2 separate regions of the Homo sapiens genome follow, and region 1 is linked to region 2. Evidence: fine-mapped expression QTL. A gene starts in region 2. The other region holds a variant in brackets. All regions are shown on one strand. Distances are from middle to middle. Region 1 has its middle 23 kb from the start of BET1-AS1. Region 2 holds the start of GNG11 (G protein subunit gamma 11).

Evidence for each region.
Region 1: its variant is fine-mapped to the expression of GNG11 in whole blood (INTERVAL, PIP 0.96).

The regions. Positions count from the first base shown.
Region 1 is chr7:93,942,917-93,947,313 of GRCh38, forward strand. No RefSeq gene overlaps it. Among named protein-coding and RNA genes, the nearest start is that of BET1-AS1, 23 kb to the right of the region's middle. The variant G/A (reference allele first, on the strand shown) is at 2,241.
Region 2 is chr7:93,919,943-93,924,339 of GRCh38, forward strand. It overlaps GNG11 (G protein subunit gamma 11), which reads left to right and starts at 1,793. Exons shown (of 2, transcript NM_004126.4): 1 at 1,793-2,291. The coding sequence starts at 2,196. The region is part of intron 1 of LOC105375402 (a long non-coding RNA gene); the gene reads right to left. RefSeq lists an enhancer at 1,395-2,030.

The DNA of each region.
Region 1 (4,397 bases), 23 kb after region 2:
AAAAGAGGTGGCCACTTCGAGTACAAGTCACTCAGTTACATATAAGATAGTGTGGTAAGAAAGTTATAACGATTGACATAAAATTCCATAGCCTCTTGCCAAGAAGGTGACCATCCTTGTCTTATCATGGCGTTGAGTTTCATCTGCACTTGAGGTGTTGGTTAGATGAGAAGAAAACCTGACTAACCTTTGCTGCACACTGGGGTTCTTTTATTTCTCACTTGAATTCTTTACTGTATCATTTACAAACCTTCTCTCTTTTCTTCAAGAGTCCAGCACTATTTCAGCCTGCCATCTTGCTGGCAAATGTCCTACACGTCTACTCAGTGGAAAAGTTTGAAAATATCAGATGTACATTCCCCTAATTTTTCTCCTACCTACATGAGAATGTGTTAATTGTTCATCTTTCTTTCCTGGTCCTTCTCTTTTTCGATGGAGAAACAAGTGTCTCGTTGTTTTCTGTTCTTGTTTTTGGTTTTGTTTCTTTTACTAAGCCTGTGTTTTTGAACTCCGGTGTCTGTGGATCTCCTGGGACCTAAGTTATACCTTCTTGTCTTAGATTTTCTACCTCTTGCCCTCAATTGGTTATGTTTCTTTTTTCTGCCTAAAAACATGATTTGTACAATCTACCTAAATCAATAATAACAACAATTGTAACAACAAAGCAAAAGAAGAAATTTTTCTTTGTTCCTGCTTCCTGTGAGAGCAATACTCTCTATGGTTTTATTCAATTTCAGATCTTTTTATCATCAGGTATTTCATTGATTATATAATTTGCCTGCCTCCATTCCTTACTAATTAATCATACTTAACAATAATATTATTCTTAAATACATGCATTTCTTTCTCATCTTTTAAACGAGTCTCCATTTTTTCAGAAGAGAAAAATTAAATTCTATTTCTTTTGAAATATTACAATCTTATTCTCACTACCAACTTTCTCTCTATGACTTTCCAACTGCCAAGTCCAGTGTATTGAAAGTCTCATTCACTTGTGACCTTCTATATAACTGGAATCTGGTTTCTACTCAAAGCCTTTTCCTCCTTTGACATCAAAACCTCGCCTACCATGCTCCTCTGCTTGCCTCTGCCATTTGGAGCTTTTCCAACTTATTTGATAGCAACACTTTTCAGGCTCTTATACACAGACATACCATGATCCCTGTCTTACACACTTCTTTCTTTATCCTTCTGCATGCAGAAACTCACCACCAATCCAAAATACATTTCCCCTTACAGAAACCCTCAATTGCCTTATTTTGCCTTCTAATTTAAGTACAAACTATTTGGCTTCATGGTTCCACAACACACATTTTGGATCTCCTATGCCAGTATTTTCTACTTTTGTTCATCTGTATATACCTATCCAGAAACAGCTGGTTGATAGCTAAGTAAATCTTAAGCTTCTCTGTCTCCCAGTCACTGTGATACTATTTATTCTGTCTGAAAGTCTACTTGTCTCTCCCCTTCTCGCCACCTGTCAAGGTGACTGAGGCTAGAACGCAGACTGTTCAAGGGCATGACAACGACTTGTGGGTTAAATAGAAACTTGCTTAGTAACTAGCCTTTCTTGATATATTATTCTTGAACAAGTTCATTTTGTTTTTTCTCATCTTTCAAAGAAGTCTCCATTTTTAAGGGAAAAACTGTAAATTCTATTCCATTTAAGGAAATGTCCCATGATATTAGAAAGCAAGTTTATTCCTTTTTGGATTAAGAAATTTAAAATGGTTAATGTATATTTTATTTTTCAGTGAGAAAGTTAAAACTGCACTAGAATGACATTCCTCACTTCTTTCTTTTGTTTTCTATTTAAATTGTACATTTTGCTGTGTGCTAAAGCACTGGACTCTGTATTATAGAGAGACTGTGGGTGGTATGCATTTTGTGACCGTGTTAGTTAAAGCATGATCATACTGTTGACTGGTTTGGCTTAGACAGTAGGAAACATCTGGCAGTTTCCTGATATTTATCAAGACAGAACTGTGCTTCCTTTAAAAACAGTTTCACATGAACAATGCACTACATAATAGCAGAGGAATTTTATAACAACAAGTATAAAAACAAGAATGTGACTATTAAATATAGACATTAATTTTATAATGTTAATCAAAAAGTTAACTCTTTTTGATTATAAAGTTATACTCTAGAAATATATCAATGTTTATATTATAAATCCAGAACAGAGTGTTTGTTCTTGCTGAAAAGAATATCAGAAAATTGATCTGAGATAGTAGAGC[G/A]AACTTTGATTTATAATTCTTTGACTGTAATGTTCAAATATATTTACCTAGCCTGGCATAGTGGCATGTGTGCTTGCAGTCCCAGCTACTTGGGAGGCTGAAGGAGGTGGATCACTTTGAGCCCAGGAGTTCGAAGCTGTTGTGAGCTATGATTACACACTGCACTCCAGCCTGGGCAACAGAGCAATACCTTGACTCTAAAGCCAGTCCCAAATGAACTTGGAAGGAATAAGAATAGATCGGATAAGTGAGTGGGGTCTGATTTTTTTCTTTTTGAACCCTGTAGGTTTCAAATCCCAAGTTCCAAGGTCTATATCTTTCAGCTAAGGAACCTTAAAGTAGGGTGGCTTTTTATGACTTTTCCACTTTCATATAAATCTGTGATGGATACCTAAATGTGGCCTTGCTTCTGATCTGTATGTCAGAAAATTGGACTAAATAACTTACAGTTATGGTTCCAGAGTTAGCAAATATATCAACCCTTTATGCTTGGCTCAAAGTAGATATTGCTAATCAGTCACTGAGTGCTCTCTTACCGAGCTAGAACAGCCCTCATAATCTTTTCCAATAGCACTGCAGGTTTACTAATCAATTGGAGTTGACATGACATGTTAAACCTATTTGCTTTCCCAGGTTTAGACTTTCCAAAATATAGCAAATACAATCATTTGGGCAAAACTTATCATTAATCGCTTTCCAAAAGAAATGCTGAAAAACTATTTTGGCAGCCCCTCCTCTCTGCCTAATACATGGCTATTTTAGGAGACATATAACTGCATGTGATCTGATTCCTCCCTTATCTTTCTTTTCCAGTAGTGTCTGCAAAGTTTATCTCATCCAGTTTGAATAGACTTCTGAGCACATCGCTCTCAGGTCTTCACAGCTAATCTATTTTCAACCACGATATAACTTCCTATATCCAAGACAAGGTGTCCTTCCTTTTTAAAATAACTTATCTTTCCCAGTTCCTTTAATTCCTTTAGTTTCTTCCGTTTTCCTAAATGTTCATCACTTAGTCACTTCTTTACCTTATTATGTCTCTTCTCTCCAATAATTGCCCCTCCTCACTAAAAATATGCTGTCAGTTTTTCCTTGGCTTTAACCAAGCATGCAAAGCCACAGACTTTTCACCAATTCTACTCCCTACTTAAACTAGCACATTATAACATTTTTCCCCCTTTAACCACAATGTCTGTTAAAACACCAGGCTGTTTCATCAATCTCTTCTTAATTCCTTGCAAGGATTTTTAAACTCTTGGAATTTGCCAAATGCTTTCTTTTCCTTTTAGCCTCTCAGTAGCATTCTTGACCTGCTCCGTTTCTCTGGCTTATCTAGCCCTGCACAAAATGAATTTCTTCTTTGCTTGTTCTTTTTGTGTTTCCTTTGTTAACATTTTATATAATTCCTAAGGCCTTATTCTTGACTTTCTTCTCTTCCCCTTCTCTACGTCCTTCTCTTTGGAAAACTCAACTTTGAAATTTTCAGCTATCATCTCTTTACAGCTTTCAAATTAATGTGAGTACTCCAGGCTTCACTCTTAGAGGTGAGTTTCACATTTTCAACTCCCCTTCTGAACATAAACAGTGACTTTCTTTTTCCAATTACTTTTAACCTTAAGGAGACTTTTTAACCTGTGTTTTCATCTGTTGCATATCAGGCATGCCAAATTTAGTTGCTGTCCTTCAGTGTGTTTTCTGGGCCCCATTCTTCCTCCCGGTTCCATTGTCTTCTCGATTAAAGCTTTTATCACCCCAAAACAGAAAGCTTAAAATAGTTACATTGCAGCTTCATATTCCTGTCTCTATAGTCTTTTTTCTGAAAGCCACCTTGCAAAAGATCTTTAGGTTTGCCATCTTAAACCACTGTTTTAAAACCATATGTCTCTTGTCGAAAACCATCATGGGATTGCTATTATCTACTGAATGAGAACTGGGCTCCTTATTCTGACAGCCAAATTCTCCATAAGCCAGGCTTAACCTACCTTTAAAGCTTGTGCTCATGTCAAGCACACTACTTGCTGATTCCAAAATTTGCCTTGATTTTTTTTTTATGAGTGTGCACTTTTGTTTTGCCACTTTAGATTTCTGGAATTAATTCTTCTACTTCTATATTCCATCTTTTAAAATTCTACTCAATCTTTAACAGCCAACTCAAAC
Region 2 (4,397 bases):
AGTCAGGCGTGGTAGCGGGCGCCTGTAGTCCCAGCTCCTCCGGAGGCTCAGGCGGGAGAATGGCGTGAACCCGGGAGGCGGAGCTTGCAGTGAGCGGAGATCGTGCCAGTCACTCCAGCCTGGGCGACAGAGCGAGACTCCGTCTCAAAAAAAAAAAAACAAAAAAACAAAAAAACAAAAAAAAGAACAAAAACACAATAATTTATTTAACCAATTTATTTAACTTAGGTGCTGAACCTATTTAATTTAGGCCACATTCACGTTGATTACTTTCACTAATTTAAGGTATTTTTGACCAACCTTTTAAATTTAAGTAATAGAAAATTTTAAAAATGAATTAGTGCACAAGACAGATATGGACATTTGTCTAGTCTCCCTGCTTATTTACAAGTAAACTTCAGTAGATGCTCTAACTACTCTGAGCTTGGAAAACCCTGGTATTTCAAATATTGAAAGTGAAGCTCTTAAACATTTTCTTTGTGAAAATGATTTATCATATATAGACATACCAACACAATTAGAGACACAACATAGCTTAGCTGATTCACTACTTCCCTGCCTTACTATACATTTTACAAATTAGAAAACCAAAACTAAGAAAAATTAAATGACTTCTTCAGTGATGGCCTGTGGCAGAGCTGCAACTACACGCCAGGAGTATTCATTAAGTGGTTCATTGTTTTTTTCATTCTAATTTATTCATTGAGGTTGAGCGGAGCGTGGTAAGAAACTAGGAACGAACAAAAACTCCTGCTTCCTAAACAGGGAATGGTCATGGGTGTCTTGGGTCAGCTACTCTGAAATATTAAGTTAATATTTCACTTGCCTTTGACTCTGTGAGGCAGGAGGTTATCTCTGGAAAGAAAGAGAAATATCCAACTGCTAGGGAAGGTTTCTTACATTCATGTTTGATTTTTCTTCTACTCTTTTGACCACCATCAACAAGACTTTAGTTACAGTTAAAGGGAAAGTTTTATTGCATGTAAACTTTTTTCACATCGGACACTTTTCCTGGCTTTCCAGAGCAACAGCTAGATAAATAGTGCTTGCCAGAAAGTGGAGAAACTAATACTAAATGAATCCACTGCCTACATCCAGGAAGGTTCAGGAGCCAGGAATTCAAAATCCTTGGTGTCAAGTGTCACCCAAAACTTAGGGTTGGGGAGTGGAGAAAGGCTTTCGGTTAAGAACTCTAAGATTCCTGCTTCTGTCTTCTCTTATATCATCCTTTGATGCACCCCTCTACATAACATTCCCCCGGAAAAATAAAAAAAATACAAACTCTGCTGCTGTTGAGGATGCAGATGATTATTTAATAATAGAAAATGTTCTTGCAACTTGTAAACGATATTCACACCCTGTTGCCCCCTCCTCGCCCAAAATGTATAAACCCATATTAGGCCTCGAACAAGCCGGATGGACACAAATGAGCAGAACACTGGTGGGTATTTCTGGGATTAGGGCTAAGCTTCATTTTCTTTTCAGCCTTTTCTTAAGCGTCCGCATTCTCCACTATGCATTTATTACGTTGGTGCAAAACTAATTGCACCAACCTATATATGTAATTAGAGAAAAGTAATTACTTTTGCAACAACCTATGTATGTAATTAGGGAAAAGCTATATCTAGCATATTTTTAAAACTCTTTGAGAGGTGAAGGGTAGTTATTTCCTGCTGGGTAGTGTACTCCTTTTCCTAGCTTCACAAACAAAACCCGGATGTGACTTGGAAACGGAAAAAAAAAAAGGAGCGGGGGTGCGCGGAGAACACAAAGTAAAACTTCTGCTGTTCCCAGTCCTGCAGCCCCAGCCCAGCCGTCCCCCGCGGGCGTGGCAGGTCCTGAGTCAGGGCCTGTCCGTGGCCAGCATCCCTGCTGGGCGATTGAGCAGCGGGAAGCTGCTTGGACCCAGTCTCAAACTTAACCCTCATCTAGCACCCGGGCAGGCCTCCTGGGTTGCAGGGACTTGAGAAAAGGCAGAGTTCTCAGGTCCTAGGAAGCTGGGGCACGCTGGCGTGACAAGCGTCCCGGAGAAAGCCAAGCCCTCGGGGAGCTGGGGACCGCAGCAGGGCTGCAGTCACATCCTGCGCGGGTGGGCGGCGGGCCAGGCCTTCAGTTGTTTCGGGACGCGCCGAGCTTCGCCGCTCTTCCAGCGGCTCCGCTGCCAGAGCTAGCCCGAGCCCGGTTCTGGGGCGAAAATGCCTGCCCTTCACATCGAAGATTTGCCAGAGAAGGAAAAACTGAAAATGGAAGTTGAGCAGCTTCGCAAAGAAGTGAAGTTGCAGAGACAACAAGTAAGTTGGCTGTTCCGGAATATTTCCTTCTCTGAAATGAAGCAGGGTCCGATTTTTCCTGCTTAGTAACAGTAAAGCAAATAGTTTAGCTTATTTTTCCCCCTTTTTGTAGCTTCTCTTCTCACCACCCTTTGGCAGTGCCTGGGGACTGCCAGCTGATGTGGGGAAATCCTAGGAGGTAGAGGAGGGAGCAAGGATCTGATAAGTAATTTAAGGCCAAATGTCCTAACTTTTAAGATGCCTAGGAAGGGGAAAATAGACAAGAAATCTTGCTTTCCATTAGACAGCTGTTTTTCAAAACTCACTTGTAGGAAAAAAGCGGATAGCTACTTGGTTCTTTGATCTTTTACACTACTAGAAAGGATGATATTTGAAAGAAATTTTCTAAAACCGTATTTTAAAGTCTTACAAGTACATTATTTAATTTTGAATTTCACCAGTGGCCTTCAGTGATATGCAAAGAACAGTCCACCGAAATTTGGGAACAAAATATTAGAATTTCTATATTTATTTGTAAATCTCATCCCTTTATAATTTTCACTTTATGTTTTATTAGTATGCGATTAATACAGTAGTATCTGTACTTATTTATAAATAATTATACATACACTGTGGTGCATATGAAAAATTTTTTTAGTGATCACAATTTTAAAGTTTTAGAGACTATTGATAGAGATTACCATTTCATTGAGAACATATGACCCAGTATTCAATATTCTCCACTGAAACGTCTCGGGAGTTTTATAAGTTTTACTTCAATTTCTTACTGGTCATCAAGACCTTCCTTCAGACACTAATCCCTCTTCCTGTTTTAACTCAATCAGGCATCCTGTAGACTAGGAAAGGTCTTTGAATAGATATTGTTTAAAGATAATTAACCTTTCCTCTTCAGCAAGAAAATTTTGAACTGATCTTATTTATTATGGTTTAGCACTAGAAAAAATTAAGAAAAACAATGGAAATGAAGCGTTATAATATGCTCACTTGCCTTCCTGTTCTAGTTATAATAAATCTGTTAAGGGCAAGAGTCTTCACTGTTGAGTGATGATTAGAAGATGCAGGCATTTTTGTGTTTTACTTTTTACATATTTCTTTTCTCAAATTTAACCTTTCACATCCAAATCCCGGCTCTTCCTAGCTTTTATAATGAGCTGTCCCTTCTATCATGTTAAGGGTTTGTAGCTTTAAAAACACCAACGCGTTTAAAGGGGAAAAAAAGGAAGTTACACTACCCAATCAATAAGCACGCTTCTTGAAACCTTAAGGGACCCATTTTATGGATGGCGAAGTTCCCAGTACAGCAAGTGCTGGCCACTTAGATATGTTCACACAATAAACCTTAGGAGTTACATATTAAACAGAGTTTCATATGCTGAAGTACAGCATTGTCTATGCAAGGTTCTAATATCTTAATATTTGGTATCACTGTGTAGAACTTAGGAAAAAAGACAAGCGTCTTCTACTTACTCAGAGTTTTAAGTTAAGTGATGTGGATGCAACCGACTATGTAAAAATTGACTGTATCATTCATTAGCAGTTTCTCCCTGCTAGCCAGCCTGACCCTTTAGGACACGGCCTGTGGCATCAACTTCCCACCTCCAGAAACCTCAAGTGTATGCCAGAGGGAGAAAAAACTTTGGATATATGTAACCTTAGGAAATACAGAAAGAGGCATCTAAATCTCAACAATAATATTAAGACATTTGATTATACACTTGGAATTATACATTATTATTGCTAGGCAAGCATTGGAATGTTTAGAGATCATTCATCTCCCTCACTTTAAGGATTAAAAAAAACTTGAGTCCCACAAAGGCTAACTAGCTCCACATTTAAGACCACAGAGATAGATAGTGATAGGGCAGGTACTAAAACATTCTTCTTCTCATTCCCAGTCCATTATTCAGTCAATAAATAGTTAACATCTGGGCTACGTGTTCAGTCCTTAACTTAGGCCCAGACAAAACTTGCAAGTTGCATTCTGGCTGTAGTTAAATGTTTATCAAACATGTCCTCTTGATTATGGAAGGAAATGTATCAGAGGAGCAATTACTCACATTTGGAGGTTACAGACCTCTTCTGAAACCTAATGAAAAAACCTTGTAA